Linked DNA regions of Homo sapiens: region 2 is linked to region 1. A link means that fine-mapping ties the variant in region 1 to the expression of a gene that starts in the linked region. Tissue or cell type: whole blood. Region 1 holds a variant in brackets; the other region holds the start of a gene. All regions are shown on one strand. Distances are from middle to middle.

Region 1 (8,106 bases):
TAATTATTATTATTATTATTTTGAGACACAGTCTCGCTCTGTCACCCAGGCTGGAGTGCAGTGGTGCAATCTCGGCTCACTGCAACCTCTGCCTCCAAGGTTCAAGCGATTCTCCTGCCTCAGCTTCCTGAGTAGCTGGGATTACAGGCACACGCCACCATGCCTGGCTAATTTTTGTATTTTTAGTAGAGACGAGTTTTCACCATGTTGGCCAGGCTGGTTTTGAACTCCTGACCTCAAGTGATCCACCCGCCTTGGCCTCCCAAAGTGCTAGGATTACAGGCATGAGCCACCGCGCCCAGCCAATTTTTTGTAGAGAGGGGTCTCACTATGTTGCCAAGGCTGGTCTCAAACTACTGGGCTCAAGTGTTCATCTCACCTCAGCCTCCCAAAGTATTGGGATTACAGGTGTGAGCCACTGCACCTGGCCCTGTATGTTTTCTTTGGAGAAATGTCTGTTCACATGGTTTGCCCATTTTTTAATTGGGTCATTTGAGTTTCTTACATATTCTGGTCATTAACCCTTGTCAGATGTGTGGTTATTAACAGCCTTTTAAAAAGTTTGTCTGAGAGTCCTTTGTTGGCCGCCTTCCTAACTGAAGTCTTCTGTCTACTTATATGATTGAATTCTTTTATTTAAATGATGATTTAATCAACAACTATTTATGTGGTGTCTGTGTGTAAAGTCTTGGTTTATCAAATGTGTCAACAAAACATTTTATAGGATTTGGCCTCTGCCCTTCAGGGGCTTGCAGTTTAGTTGGAAGGTAGACCAAAAAACTTCTATGTCAATATGTGCTAAATGCAGAATGTGTTAGCAGAGAGTTTTGACAGGCTGGTTTTGGGCTAGGAAAGGCATGCCTTGAGCTGCAGGCAGTGGTCTTCTCTAACTCCCAAGTCACGCCACTCCCTGCTCTTGTGTGTCGGTTTAAACTGTTACTCCAATTTCCTAAATGTTTACTAAGTAAAGGGCTATGGCACACAAATAAACTAAACAAAATAGTTCTAGTTAGACCCTTGGAAAAATCTTCCCCTTTTCTGGGCCTCAGTCTGTTTATCTATAAAATGCAAGGATAGAAACCAGTGATTCGAAAACATTTATTGTTTGTTTTTTGAGACAGAGTTTCGCTCTTTCGCTTAGGCTGGAGTGTAGTGGCATGATCTCGGCTCACTGCAACCTCAGCCTTCCGGTTTCAAGCGATTCTCCTGCCTCAGCCTCCCAAGTAGCTGGGATTATTACAGGTGCCCGCCACCACACCCAGCTAATTTTTGTATTTTTAATAGAGACAGGGTCTCACCATGTTGGTCAGGCTGGTCTCGAACTTCTGACCTCATGATCCACCCGCCTCAGCCTCCCGAAATGCTGGGATTACAGGCGTGAGCCACTGTGCCTGGCCAAAACATTGTTTTTAATTAGTGGGAGCCTTTCTTTAAATAAAACTACCCAGATGCTCAATTTGTAAATGAGAGTTGCTTTTGGAGGGTTGGGGGTTGCAGGTTAGCACAGAGACAGTGGAAGGGAGCTCAGTCTCTCCGGCCTTCCGCAGGCAGCGCTCGAGTACCTTCTAGGTACCTTCCCTCATGAGCAGTTTCAAAACCATTGGGCCATTGGGGTAGGATGCATGGCTGTTTTTTGTTTTGTTTTGTTTTGTTTTTGAGACGGAGTCTGGCTCTGTCACCCAGGCTGGAGTCAATTGGCGCAATCTCAGCTCACTGCAACCTTTGCCTCCCAGGTTCAAGCGATTATCTTGCCGCAGCCTCCTGAGTAGCTGGGATTACAGGCGCCCGCCACTACACCTGGCTAATTTTTGTATTTTCAGTAGAGACAGACAGGGTTTTGCCATGTTGGCCAGGCTGGTCTCGAACTCCTGACCTCAGGTGATCCGGCATGGCTAGTTTTTATGTAATTATGAAATACAGCACTATTTGGTTTTCTGTACTACCAAACTCTGTCAAGAATAGTTAATATATGTTGTTAAAAAAAGAATAAAAATAATTTAAAAATAATGGTTAATATATATTGGGATATTAAAAGGGAAAGACATTATTAGCTAAGCCCCAAAATGTCCGAGAGGCAAGTTACTTATTGCTGCAAGTTTTCTTTTACAGCAAGAATAATCACAACCTTAATGACCACCAATGATTTTACAAGTAAGCAAAATATCTTCTCACTTCCTTTTTGAGTTTTGTGCTATTTGTGTCTCCTTCATTTGTAAACTGTCTTAGGGTTTAATGGATGGACTTGGCTCTGTTGGATTATAGATTTAGAAGATGGCAACAATGTATTCCTAGTCTTATTGGTCACCATTTTTATTGTTAAGCCTCTCCTTCTTATAGTACAGGGGATAGACTATGCACAAGACAATAGATTCCTATCTCCATGGAACTTCCACTTAAGCAGTGGAATTGGACATGAGGTAATCACACAATTCCCTATTGAATTCTAATGGGACATGGTTTGGAAGAGTAGGGCAGGATGAGCATCTAAGGAGAACCTGGCCTAGTTTGCAGGAGTTGGGCAGATTAATTTGAAGAAGAGTGATCGTAAGGATGAGTAGAGGTTTAGCCAGAGGAAAGGATGTGGGCGGAGGCCAGACTCTTAACAAGGAGCAGCATTGTGAAGGTCATGAGCGAAGGACAAAGGGCTAGAGTGCGGAGAGCAGGGGGACAGTGACAAGCGGGTTTCAGGAGAGGAAGGATGCGAGACTGGCAGTGGCCCAAGTATCCAGGGCCTACAAGAACTGCCTACAAAACAGTAGGAAGGCTCTGGAGGCTTTGAAGCAGGGAAGTGGTGTCACCAATGGACTATGTTTTTGTTCTGTTTCTTTAAAAGAAAAAGCTGTCATGGAGGAGGAAATACTATGGTTAACCACAAAAGAATTTAGTAATTCCTTAGGCTGTTTTCAACTCCCAAATCAAGCATATATTATACATCTTTGGAAAATGATTAGAACAGATGGTGTCACCTGTGAAGATCAGAAAATGTCCCCAGCATGTAGACCTTTTAAATGAGCTAATTATTATTTGAGAAATAGTGCTTCAGAACAGAGATATGTTTGTTAGTCTCTTCCTGGAGGTTATACCTTTGCTCGAATACTTTTTGTCAGCTCTGATGATAGGACTAAAATTGTTCTGGTCAAAGCATAAACTTTGATCAAGTGGGAAATGGGAAGGAAGACAGGCTTGGGTCTTTCCACAGGACTTGAATTCTCAGCATGGAAAGGAAAGTCAAACCACAAGTAAACAGCAAAACCTATACATTAGAAATTAAAAGATCAAGATTGTTCTAATTGTGATTTATTTCTTATCTATGACAGCTGTTCTTGAAAGTGATCAGTATATCCAGGAATAACTTTTTTGTTGTTGTTTTGTTTTGAGATGGATTCTCACTCTGTCGCCCAGGCTGGAGTGCAGTGGTGTGATCTTGGCTCACTGCAACCTCTGCCTCCCGGGTTCAAGCAATTCTCCTGCCTCAGCCTCCAGAGTAGCTGGGATTACAGGCATGCGCTACTATGCCCAACTAATTTTTGTATTTTTAGTAGAGATGGGGTTTCACCATGTTGGCCAGGCTGGTCTCAAACTCCTGACCTCAGGTGATCCGCCCACCTCAGCCTCCCAAAGTGCTGGGATTACAGGCGTGTGCCACCGCGCCCGGCCTGGGAATAACTTTTTTTTTTTTTTTTTTTTTGAGACGGAGTCTCGCTCTGTCGCCCAGGCTGGAGTGCAGTGGCGGGATCTCGGCTCACTGCAAGCTCCGCCTCCCGGGTTCACGCCATTCTCCTGCCTCAGCCTCCCAAGTAGCTGGGACTACAGGCGCCCGCCACTACGCCCGGCTAATTTTTTGTATTTTTAGTAGAGACGGGGTTTCACCGTTTTAGCCGGGATGGTCTCGATCTCCTGACCTCGTGATCCGCCCGCCTCGGCCTCCCAAAGTGCTGGGATTACAGGCGTGAGCCACCGCGCCCGGCCAGGGAATAACTTTTTAAAAACAGTTCAGCTAAAATCTTACATGTGTTTTTCAAACACAAAGATATCTTAAATCTCATTAAACCTATTTATCAGGAGTGTATCCGTACCTTAAAGTAGAAGTTAAGTCACTGTTAAAGTTATATATATTTATTTATTTATTTTTCCACAAAGAGACACATTTTCATGGTTACTTGAATATAAAATATGCCTTGTCCTGTGGGCCAGTTTTTCAGGATGATCTTAACAGAGTATGTTAAACCACCCTTGCTTAATATGGAACGTTCTGAGACAGCAGCACCCTCAGGACGTCAGATGAGTAAAGGGATTTTTAAAAGTTATAACCCTTCTTAGGCTGGGCACAGTGGCTCACGCCTGTAATCCCAGCACTTTGGGAGGCCAAGGTGGGCAGATTACTTGAGGTCAGGAGTTTGAGACCAGCCTGGGCAACATGGTGAAACCCTGTCTCTACTAAAAATACAAAAAATAGCCAGGCGTGGTGGTGGGCACCTGTCATCCCAGGTGCCTGGGGAGCTGAGGCGGGAGAATCACTTGAACCCAGAAGGTGGAGGTTGCAGTGAGCCAAGACAGGCCACTGAACCCCAGCCTGGGTGACAGGGCAAGACTGTCTCAAAAAAAAAAAAAAAAAGTTAAAAGTTATAACCCTTCTTAGCCAGAGCCACATTACTGTCAATTGAGCACTTAAGATGATAAATTATTATTTATGAAGTTGGGCCAAGGGGCCAAAAATTGTCATGATAGGGAGATCATTTCCCCAGAAATAACTGGAACCAAAATTGTTCAT[T/G]TCGGAGGTTGGGGGTGAAGCTTTATTTAGGCTTATACTTTGAGCAGGAGGTGGTTTTGGTCTGTATTGTAAAGACAGTTTTTAATACACTTTTTTTTTTATTTCAGTTCTTCTACGTTTTGTGATCATGCTGGCTTTAAATATATGGGTAACAGTGACAGTACTTCGCTACCGGAAGACCGCTATAAAGGCTGAATGATGGATACATTATTCCTTCACACAGTGGATTTTGAGTAACTGAACCAAAGGAAAAAGAAGCTCTTTGCTAAATTAAGGTCTTTTATAAATTTAGTAAATCAGTTTATAATCTTTAAAGCCAAAGGTTTTTTTAGACTTGAAAGAAAGAGCCACTTAAATTCTTGTTTAAAAATACCAATTTGCCTCCTCCTTCCTCACTTCGTTAGGTTATGGTAGTGCTCAGACATCTGCAGTGTTGAGGCCAGTCACTGTTGGAAGTCATCCAAGAAGCCCATTTTGAGGCCATTTTGAGCCTTACTCTTAAGTTCTCTATGAAGAACTACATTGATTTGTTGGCTTTCAGAATCTTTTAGGAAATAAATCCTCTCCAGGACAAAAATGAACATGAATGGAGTGGCATTTTGTTCCAAGTCAGAGGTGGGCACCTATAATAAATGACTAGGGTTCACTTTCTGGGACTGATGTTTAATTGTAACACAGATACAACAGGGTGGCCTTGTTGTGTATAATACGGTATTATACCCGCATGTGCTCTAGCAAGGATACCAAGGCAAGCATACATGTAGCTGGCTTGAGTTTGTACCAAAACAGTCCTTCAACTTTGCACTGTGCCTTAAGTAATTACTAACAAAAGGTACTAGGATTAGCTGCAATCTCTACTTTCGATGAGGAAATCCCAGTAAGCTTTCTGATTCAAGTACAATGCTGCCATTTTTTAAAGGGCCACAACTATAGAATTACCACTGTTGGAATTTGGTACAAAATATGTTTTGTCTATTGAAAACATACACGGTAAATGGTGTTGTTAGGTAGGTTCTGTCCAGTTCTTAGGGACTTTTTTCACATTATAGCATTTTTACCCTAAACATGATGTTGAGATTATTATATACTGTATTTTCTTCTAAATTAACCCTAATGTTTAAAAACTCACTTTCCCCCTTTAATTGAAGGCATTGTTTTGTTAGATGCAGTAATGATGTTTACCAGAGATTATTGTTTCCTATGCAAAATAAATTTTCATATTTTGAATTCTGCTGAGTCTTAAAACTGTCAATCATTAATATGACTATTTTATGTAAGGTATAGTTTTTAAACAAACTGGTTAATCCTTTTAGAACTACTGCTTGGGACCAACAGGAAGAGAAACATGGTATCTAAAGACAAAATTATTCATTCTGTAGTTGTTAAAATTACAGATGTCATATTTTTAAACATGCAAGTTAATCTTTTTTCATTTGCAGTTATAATCTGACCATTAGCATCAATACAAATTATATGATTTTTAGTCCAACAAATGTTATATTTAGATAACATTAGTACTTTATCACTGCTTAAAGCAACTCCTTTAAGAGCATACTTAGGTGACAGGGTCTCTGTTTTTCCCCCTTTGTAAGGCAACAAACACTCGAGCCATCTCAGACATTCTACACACATCATACTTACTTAATCTGCCAGTGATCCTGTAAAGTAGACACAATCTATATCTCCATTTTACAGATGAAAACACGGAGGCTCAGAGTGAATAACCTGCCCAAGAGCACATAGCAAATAAGTGCCCTAGAAAAGGTTCCACTGATTGCCAGAGAAACACTTTCTAGAAAATCACCTATCAATCAATCAGCACACTATTTCCTGACAAAACAGACATCCTGCCTCTTTTCCCTATCCTTACCAATTCAAATGAGTTTGTTCTATTATTTGCGTGCGTCTTAAAACACCCAAATCAGATCAGAGACAGGCTCCTGGTTGAAATTTGGTATTTCTCCATGAATTAAATCATAGGGCAGAAGAAACACAAGTCTACAGCCTTAGTTCTAAGACTTATTTACTATCCTCATCCCACTGTTTATACCCATCTTATAGAGAAAGCAAATGTTTTGGGTAAACTTTAGAAGGTTGCCGTATTCCAGGACTATTTCACAGGAGAAGTATGAAAATGCTTATGTCTCCATTTATTTTATTTTATTTTTTTATAAAAAAGCAGGCATAAAATACAATTACATTACTACGAAGATGCAACAAAATTTTAAAAAAGAAAAAGGGGTGCAATTTTTTTCAGAGAGGACAGCTGATCAAATATTTATAATTTTCTAAACCATGCAGTTCATTACTTATTACAATTCCAAACAAAACTCATTATTATGGGGATGGGAGTCAGGGAGAGGCCCCCCCCCAAGCATGATATCCAGCGCTGTCACACAGTGCTTATGTTCAAAGTGCTTACAAATGGTGTCTTCACAGCATAGGGAAGCTGAAGCCTTATTCCAGGGAAGGAGAGGTGAGTCAGTAGCAGTGTCAATGCAGACTCAGAAGCTCGGCAGTGACTTGCTCAAATCAGATTTTAGACACGATTTAAAGCATGTTTCAGTAAGGTTAATATAGTGTCCGAGTTTCTCTACTTTACCACCAGAATCCTAGAAGAGAGTAACAGCAGCAGCATAACTTCTTAAAACTGTGGTGTGGCAACCTAGAGTATTTCTGTTTAAGATCTATATATAAATGGATGCAAAATAGATACTTTAGAGCCAGATTCATGTAACTCTAACACAGGTTAGTTTTAAAGGCACTAACCTTTACTTTGGCTTTACTGGTATGCTTATCCATTAGTTAGCTGGAACATTTTAAAACTTTCATATAGATTTTTAAAACTTGTTTCTAGAGAACATGGTTTTTTAAAATTAATACTTTAAAAACATTCACTGTACATTAATTTCAACAGTAATACCGGCACCAGTTTTCCTTTCACTTCTGTCTCGTTATCCCCACAAAACAAAAGTAAAAAATCCAATAAGAAAATCCCAGTATTCATGATTTCTTAGTTCCCCATAGGAGGTATTTATGGTTCTAGGAGAAATCAGGTGTGAAGGAACAAGCAAATTTTAGTCTTATATTTATCTTGGAAGCTTCAGGGCCTCAAGAAAAACGAGAAACGAGCACAAAATCAGGTTGTTTTATATTTAATAAGTGTTGGGAAGAAAACACATTGATAGGTGCATGCACTCATGTATGTACATGAAAGCGGCAATGCGGTAAAAAGCGAATTCTTACCCAAGGTCAGAATTTTTTATTAAGCGCATTTTCATTAGTTGGACAAACAACCTTATAAACCCTTATGTCAAACCATATAATGTGAAGAA
Region 2 (8,106 bases), 170 kb after region 1:
GTTTAGAGATACACACAAATGTAGTAATCTATGAAATGAAGCAAAGGAACAATAAAATGTTCAGGGTAGCAGATGAGAGAGGATGCAGGAAGACTGAATCCAGCAGCGGCGACGGCACACAGGTAACTTCTACAGGCTAGTGTTCCACTTATTAACTTGTGTGGTGATTTCATGAATATGTTTTTACGCTTCGTAACTTATATTTGCATACTATATTTTTAGAATTCAAAATGGGAAAAAGAGGGCTATCTGATCAAGACTTGGGAAATAAAAAACAAAAAAGTTAGGTTTCAAGATAATTATCCACTATTTATTTACAGCTACTGAAGTGTATGTAAGTCCGTATTTCCTTACTTAGTCTACATTGGCCTTACCCTGGGACCAAAATGTTTCCGAACTCAGAATTTCTTGGATTTTAGAAAGGTACACAGTACATATACTGTGTACTCCCAAAAATGCTCTTGAAAATCTGGGCAACACCCTGAAATCAAATACATTCATATTCCTCCAGCAAAAGGCATTATTATTTACATCAAGAGGAATGACTAGACCACAAGTATTCTAATGTGAGATTAGGTCAGATGTTATCATCAAATACATTTTACCAAAAACTGGGTTTTTTATATATCAAAATTGTGGATAAGGGATTGCGGACCTGCACTTGCTTCACATCAACAGTAAGTTCCACACATCACCTTTTTTTTAAAACCTCCCTAGCTAACTCATTTTCTTTAAATATCTCCTATCAACATGAAAGTTTTAAAGTAAACTAGTCACAAATTTTACACTATAAATGCCAAACTCTTCATAAAGAAAAAAATGTATAAAATGATTTTTAATTTTTATTCTATTTCATTTTTATTGTATCTTTATAATGTTCTTACTTATTACATGATGGGAAAAATACACATACAATTTTATTTTAACTAGGCAAATAACCAGCAGCATGCTGAAAGAGTCTAAGCACTGAGATAATATTGTCAGATAGTTTACAAGTATAATGAAATCAATCAAATTATTTTATGTTTTATGCCACTGAAAATTGTAAACAAAGTTTTAATCACCTTTGCCCATCCACACAAGTCTTAAGTAAGAGTTTACCCAAGCGTGAGTCCTACAGGTTATTGTGACTGTTTACTCTTTGAAAGAGTAAAATAAATCAACACTCAAAAAGCACAGACCTTTAGAAAAATATCTCTTCAGCAAAGCCTGAAACACAGTTCTTTTTACCATAATAGGTAAGCAGTATGAGAAGCTGGTCTTGACAACAAAGCATAGGTATTTACCCAAAGGTTTCAAACACTACAAAAGCATATTACTGAAGACTCGCCTCCAAAAAAAAAAAGAGGCAGTAGAGAAGCAAAACTCTAAGTAATACTAAGCGGCTCACAATCTGCAACCATAAAAGAGATATACTCTTCTCAGATTAATTTAAGGACCCACATAAAGCCATGAGCCTTTGCAGAGAAACAAGATGTCATCTTTACACTGATTTAGTCTTGGAATCCAGCTCTACCTATGCCTAATGATTGCTAGCACTTTTCTGATGACAAATTCAAATGATAATGCTACTCACTCAAAATTATGTAGCAAGAAATAGTTGCAAATAAAACCATTTTCCTTTGAAAAGAAAATTTAAAGCAGTTAACTAATAACATGCTAAGTGTGCACAGGAGAAGTGAACTAAATTTAATGAGCACTGTGATGTACCAAGCACTAGGCTAAGCACTTTACACGTTATCTCATAAAACTTTGTTTCCTACAGAGTTTTACCTTCTAGGCCTAGCCCACTGAAAGCATCATACAATCATTTCTGGTGTACTTCATCTTCTTTTGTCATCTTAGGTATATACTATTTTTAATGGTACTTTCTGAGCTCCTGAATGTAGTGTCGCAGCTGTGTTTGCTTTAAATTATATTCCTTTAAATTTTCTGTTAAAGACAAAATATGTATTTCCCATGGCAAAACCAAAAAATAAATGTCATAGGCAGTAAAACAATGACCAATAGTGAAATGCAACCTAAATGCTAAGGTTTCAGATCTTTAAAGTGATACCAGCCATTATTTCGTCAGTATTTCAGGAAATATAATTTTTATAACATTCTTTTAAACATTAATTTACAGTTTCAGTTTGGAAAAATGAAAAGATTCCAGAGACGGATAGTGGTGATGGCTGCACAACAATGTGAATGTATTTAATGCCTGCCACTAACCTGTACACTTAAAAATGGTTAAAAATGGTAAATTCTGTATACGCTACCACAATAAAAAATCCATTCTAGTAGTTCATAAATAAAATACGCGTAATTTAAAATTAATTTATTATAAAAAAATTTTTAAATTTCGTTTATCAATTTGTAACAGAAACACCAGGAACCTTGCTCCAAAGGAATAAGGGACGCATTTTGGCTTGGAAAGGTTTACTGCACCTCAAGCATATTTAACCAACTAGAAACAGCAATAACAGAGTCTGTCAAGTCATCAGCACCTGATGTCAATTCTCAGATCCGTAATGTGCCACCTTAATAAAAGTGTGTTTTGGCTGTAATAACTGCTAAATGAATGAACTGTGTCCTGAACATGTGAGATGTTTCACTTTTAAAAATAGCCTCCATTTTAATAATTTGGAAAGCAATAAAACAAAATGCATGATCATATTACATGTATAAGCTACTTACATTCAAGCTCAGAATAACTCTAATAATTATGATTAATATCATTAAAGATCTAAGATATCAAAGTGAATTGCAAAACGTTTCCATCTAGGATTTAGCATGAACCTGATGAATACTTGAGATTTGCTGTACTATTTTTAACTAAACTTTCTGGCCTTAGGTCAAAGTTTTGCTAGCAAAATACCAAAGTGAAAATGCTGGGAGTGCAGCCCAGAGTCTCCGCTTTAGCCTAGGAAAAGCTATGCCATCCATGCAAGCAATCTTACTCCCGATTAAAGACTTTCAAAGACTGCTCCCATTAAAACATAGGAACAACACATTAACCCGAAAAACAGTAAAACATCAAACACATGTGACACAATATAGCACATCATTCATTACTTTCTGTACACTGTGCAGAAAGACACTATATAGCTAAAGTCAGTTCCTGCATTTTGACCAAACAGGACTGAGTCACTCTGCAAACGATGCCTGAAACCTCAAAGGATAACCAACCGCCTCTGACCAAAAGCCAGTCCGTCCGTCCCTGGAAAGGGAGGAGGCAGTTTTTCTCATCATACAGTAAGGTTTATTCCAGGAGGGAATAGAACTAAACATCTGCATTCCAGCACAGAATGTCTAACGGATCTAAGGACCTCCCACCCTAGTTCTAGTCTTCCAGAGTCAATTTAATACACAGAGTATCGTTTTCACCTTTCTTCCCCTCCCCAGGGTAAAAGTCCACACCCCCTTTTCCCATAAATGCATCTACACTGCACACTACTCAAATTGCGAAATACAATCATCTATCCTAACAAAAATAAGAAATAAGCCAGCATTCTACGGTGCATTTCTATTTTGTAAAACATGCTCCTTTCTTAACCAAGAGCCAATTAGCAGCCTTTACGGTGCTATTAATCTGGATTTCAAAGGTCGTTATAGGAAAGAGACGCAATGAAGAGGACAGATTTATTCCACTCCACAATTCAGACTGATTTTTTGGCTCTGGCGCAATAATCTCAGGGAATTAAATTTACAGCAATTAAAATGCACTAAATAGCAAGTATGGAATGCTCAAACGCAAGTGAAAACAGCAAAACTTTAGCTGTGTGTTCCAAGATTTCAGACTAAAAGGAGAGAGTGAGGGCGGCTCTTTGTCATGTACCCCAGTGAGTACTCGCAACAGGGACAGCATCAGGTTTCTTTCTCCCTCGCTCGCACCAAGTCCCCACGTAGCATGACACTTTCAAATCAGCTAACCTGGTGTATGAAGCATGGCCAGTCCTCCACCCACCTCCCCAGAGTGGGCAGGCGGAAGGAGAAGAGGGGTGTTTTCCTCCCAGTGCTGCAAGAAAGGAGCAGCCGGGGATGACACTGGCTCCAGCAGGAGGTAGAGGGAGGAATCAAAGGCGGGTCACTACTCTTGGAACTCGGTGACAGAATCGTTTGGTCTCCGGCCCCGGCTGCCGGAAGCAGGGCGGGGTGGGGCAAGACCTCCCCCTCCCCACGGGCGGACGGGCACGGAGGGCTGGGCGGAGAGGGGATCTGAGGTGTGAGCTGCAACGAGCAAGCTCCCAGGCCCCGGCCACCTACCAGCAAGCTCTCCACGTTGATGGGGGAGCGAGGGTCTCGGATCAGCGCCTCCAGCTTCCTCTGGCGGCTCGCGCCTGCCCCGTCCCCCGGCGCGGTCTCGGGGGCGCCGGGCATTTTCCCCGTCGGCGGGGGCCGGCTCATGCCGCCACCGCTGGACCCGCACTCAGGCTCCTCGCGCTCAGGTCCCGCAGCCTCGGGGCCTAGCACCGCCCCCGAACCACCAGCTCCGGCCGGGACTCCACCCGGGCCCACCGCCTGCCTCTAGCTCCGGCTTCGGGTCTCCAAGGCGGTCCCCCGCCTGGGGGCTGCTCCCAGGGGCCCGCCCGGCCCAGCCCGGCCCAGCCCGGCCCGGCCCTGCCGGGAGCGGCGGGGAACAGACGGCGTCCCCGCCCCTCAGTCAGATTCGCGCCGCCGGTCCGCTGGTCCTCAGCGAGTGCCCGCAGGAGTCCTCGGGCGGGAGCAGGGAAGTGGCGCCGCCACCGCCGCGGCCCGGACCGCCCCGCCCTCTGGGGCCCCGGGAGGCTGAAGCCCAGGCCTGGGCCACTACGGCCGCCGCCGGCCCGCTGCCATGGTCGCCGCCGGCCGCCTTGCAGTCCCTCAGCCAGCTCCCGGCGCACACACTCCCGCGCGGCCGCCCGTCTCCGGCCGCGCGCCGCCGCTACCCACAAGCCCCTCCGCCCGCAGCCGCCGGCGCGCGTCCCCGCCGGCCCTGCGCGCGCTCCGCCCCGCCCCGCCCCGCGCACCGCGCTTCCTCCCTTTCTTTCCCTTCCTGCGTCTGTCCCGCTCCGCTTTCTCCTCTGCGCCCCTTCCTCGCCCGCCCTCGCCTCCTCCCCCTGGCGAGGTTCTCTGAGGCGAATAGCCGGGCGCGCGGTCACGGCCGAGCTCCTGCTGGGGGAGGGGAGACGCACCCAGGCCGGGTCCTTCCGCGCGCCCCCTGCCCCTCCCGCCGGACCCCGCGGACTACCCCGCGGCCCCGAGGCGGAACCCCAGACGCCGGGCCCAGCGCACCGTGCGCTGGGGGGGAGCCCGGCCGCGCCCCCCGCCGCGGCCCCCGCTGACTCAGCGCGCAGCTATGCGGGCCTCGCCTCACCCGCGCCCAAATAATAGCGACCGAGCTCGGCGCCCGCGAGGGGCCGCAGGGCCGGGGGTTTCGAGGCGAGCCTGAGAGGGGGCCCTGGGTGTCTGGGATTCCGAATTAGCGGAGGCGGGTGGAATCCTAGTCCTGGGGCAGGAGGGCCTGGGATCCTGAAAGCGTTTCTGCCCGGCTTAGACACTAACCACTTCAAGAGAACGGGAGAGCACCGGAAAAAGGCTTTCCAGCCGCAGGCCTTCGCGGGGTCTTCTCCTTTTGGGGGGCGGAAGAGGGGTGGTTATCGGGACCGTTCCGCCGCATTCCTGCCCTCTCGGCGGCCGGTGCCATCGCTTAGATCCGCCCAGGGCGCAATCCGAAAATTATGTGCCAAGAGCTATAAAACCGTTCATAGAGCCCCTTTGACCCAGTAAACCCATTTAAGGAAGTACATTTCCAAGGAAATGATCCAAAGGGCGAAGAAGGGGGAGAACTTGCAGAAAGATGTTAACAGCAGGGCTATTCACAATGTTCGTGATGACCAAAACCTGGGAATGGGCCCAGTTGTCCAACAATTGAGTAACCCAAACAGGCGCCTTCACATTAACAGCAAGAATCCTGGCAGGTATGCAGACTGTGTCAAACATGAAATTTTGGCAAGTACATGAGAAGGTATATTAGAAATAAATGAAACAAAAAAAATCGTTTGTACACACTAAAACTATGTAAAATGAGCAGCTATAAGAACCAGAGAATACAGTACTTCTTAAATAAATGGGATTTTTTTCTGTAAAGATACTTAAGAACAAATTAAATTTCAAAAAATGGAAAAACCACTCCGAAAAGCAACAATCTGATATCCATTAAGTAATAAGAATGTTAAGAACTGTCTCCCTGGCATGTCAGAGATAAACCCGAAGATAGGGTGAAGCCCCAGCCCTGTAAAAGTTGCATTTTGATCCAAACCATTGGATTAGTTGGAGCCTCTTCTTTGGTTTTAGGTTAGTTAAAACCACCCCTAGCTGGACTCATGCAGGAAGAGGCCCCGATGATCCATCCAATGCAGCTTTTCCCTTTCAGATAGTAACACTGACTTCACATCCAGAGAGTCCTTTAAGTCTGTGTATTGAGCTACTCATTCAGACCTCCACAGAGGCCACCAGGAGAACAGAGGGAGCTAGACACTCCCACTTATGCATTGGAGCAAAATAATGAGATAATCTATGATTATGGATTATTTTTCTGATGACAAAATAATATGCAAGGCAAAAGGAGCACTCTGTCTAGCGGGGCGTGGTGGCCTGTGCCTGTAGTCCCAGCTCCCCCTGAGGCTGAGTTGGAGGCCTCCTCCATTGAGCCCAGGAGGCCAAGGCTGCAGTGAGCTGTGATCACACCGCTGCACTCCAGCCTGGGCAACAGAGTGAGATTGTCTCAAAAAAAAAAAAAAAAAAACACTGTGGTTCTCAGTTTCCAAATTAATTTTGACTGGTTGTATATTTGTATGTAGCTTGGTGGAATAACAGGAAGCCATGGTCCAAATACCGAACATGAAAACCTTATTTTAAGAGTAGTGATCAACAAGATATATATCCTGGGCATGTTCTACATATACTTATTTATATAGACCAGAAAAAGCCATGGTACAGAAGATTTTTACCCAAGACCTATCCCATTGTCTACCTGGAAGAAGAGAAAATGAATCTGTTGATATGAGTTAAACCTTTTTGCAGGATGGGGTAAGGGTAAGGAGGAGGTTAGTACAACAATTCTTGTTTTCAAAAGTAATGCACAAATGCATTCTTGTAAAAGTTCAAACGAACCAGAAATATATGGAACATAATCTAAAATTTACTGTTCTGACTATATTTCCACATACATTCTTATATCACTCAAGGCCTTTGGCCATTCTCATACATATGTATTATAGATACATGTTACCTTTTCCCCACAGACATGAAATTATACCATATCATGGTGTTTGGCAACTTGGTTTTTTCCCTTCATTACTAATATGTCCTAGAGGCGTGTCCATGTCTATAGGCAGAGATCTGCTTCATTCCGCTTACCTGCTGTCCTCTACTCCCCAGTTTGGATGTGCCACACTGTAATTATTCTCTATTCGAGAGCATAGTGGTTAAGAAACAATTGCCAAAATCCTGCCCCAAACACACACTTGCCATGTGACCCTGAGCAAGTTACCTAACTCCTCTGTGTCTCGGGGTCCTCACAATATTTGTTATAAAGTGCTTAGAAATGTGCTGGCCCTCAATCAATGCTAGATATTATTAATATTTTCTCACTGTTAAAATGATCCATTGACATCCTCGTATCCTCATATTTGAATAGTATAGATTCCTAAAAGTGGAATTGTCATAACAAAGGGTAGGCATACTGTAAATACAGATGCTGCCAACCTGTTATTTATTTATTTATTGGAGGCAGGTTTACATTCTGTCCTTCAGGCTGGAGTGCAGTGGCACGAGAGATCTTGGCTCACTGCAACCTCCACCTCTAGGGCTCCAGCAGTCCTCCCACTTCAGCCTCCTGAGTAGCTGGAACTGCAAGCACACAACACCATGCCTGGCTAATTTTTGTATTTTTTGTAGAGACAGGATTTTGCCTTGTTGCCCAGGCTGTTCTCTAAGTCCTGAGCTCAAGCGATCCACTCACCTCAGCCTCCCAAAGTGCTGGGATTACAGGGGTGAGTCACAGAGCCGGGCCTCAACCTGGCCTTTAAAAAGACGCTACCCGTTTACATTCTCAGCGTGAGTAGAAGAAACTGCCCATGT

The links. PIP is the estimated chance that this variant, and not a neighbour inherited with it, causes the effect.
Region 2: ROCK2 starts here. The variant in region 1 is fine-mapped to the expression of ROCK2 in whole blood (TOPMed, PIP above 0.99).

The regions. Positions count from the first base shown.
Region 1 is chr2:11,172,859-11,180,964 of GRCh38, forward strand. It overlaps SLC66A3 (solute carrier family 66 member 3), which reads left to right. Exons shown (of 7, transcript NM_152391.5): 6 at 2,110-2,151; 7 at 4,879-5,998. The coding sequence ends at 4,970. ROCK2 (Rho associated coiled-coil containing protein kinase 2) reads right to left here. Exons shown (of 33, transcript NM_004850.5): 33 at 6,901-8,106. Among named protein-coding and RNA genes, the nearest start is that of SLC66A3, 21 kb to the left of the region's middle. The variant T/G (reference allele first, on the strand shown) is at 4,772.
Region 2 is chr2:11,339,748-11,347,853 of GRCh38, forward strand. ROCK2 (Rho associated coiled-coil containing protein kinase 2) reads right to left here and starts at 4,889. Exons shown (of 33, transcript NM_004850.5): 1 at 4,249-4,889. The coding sequence starts at 4,389. LOC124907733 (a long non-coding RNA gene) reads left to right here and starts at 5,765. Exons shown (of 2, transcript XR_007086216.1): 1 at 5,765-5,942. RefSeq lists silencers at 4,204-4,933, 5,074-5,143, 5,214-5,373.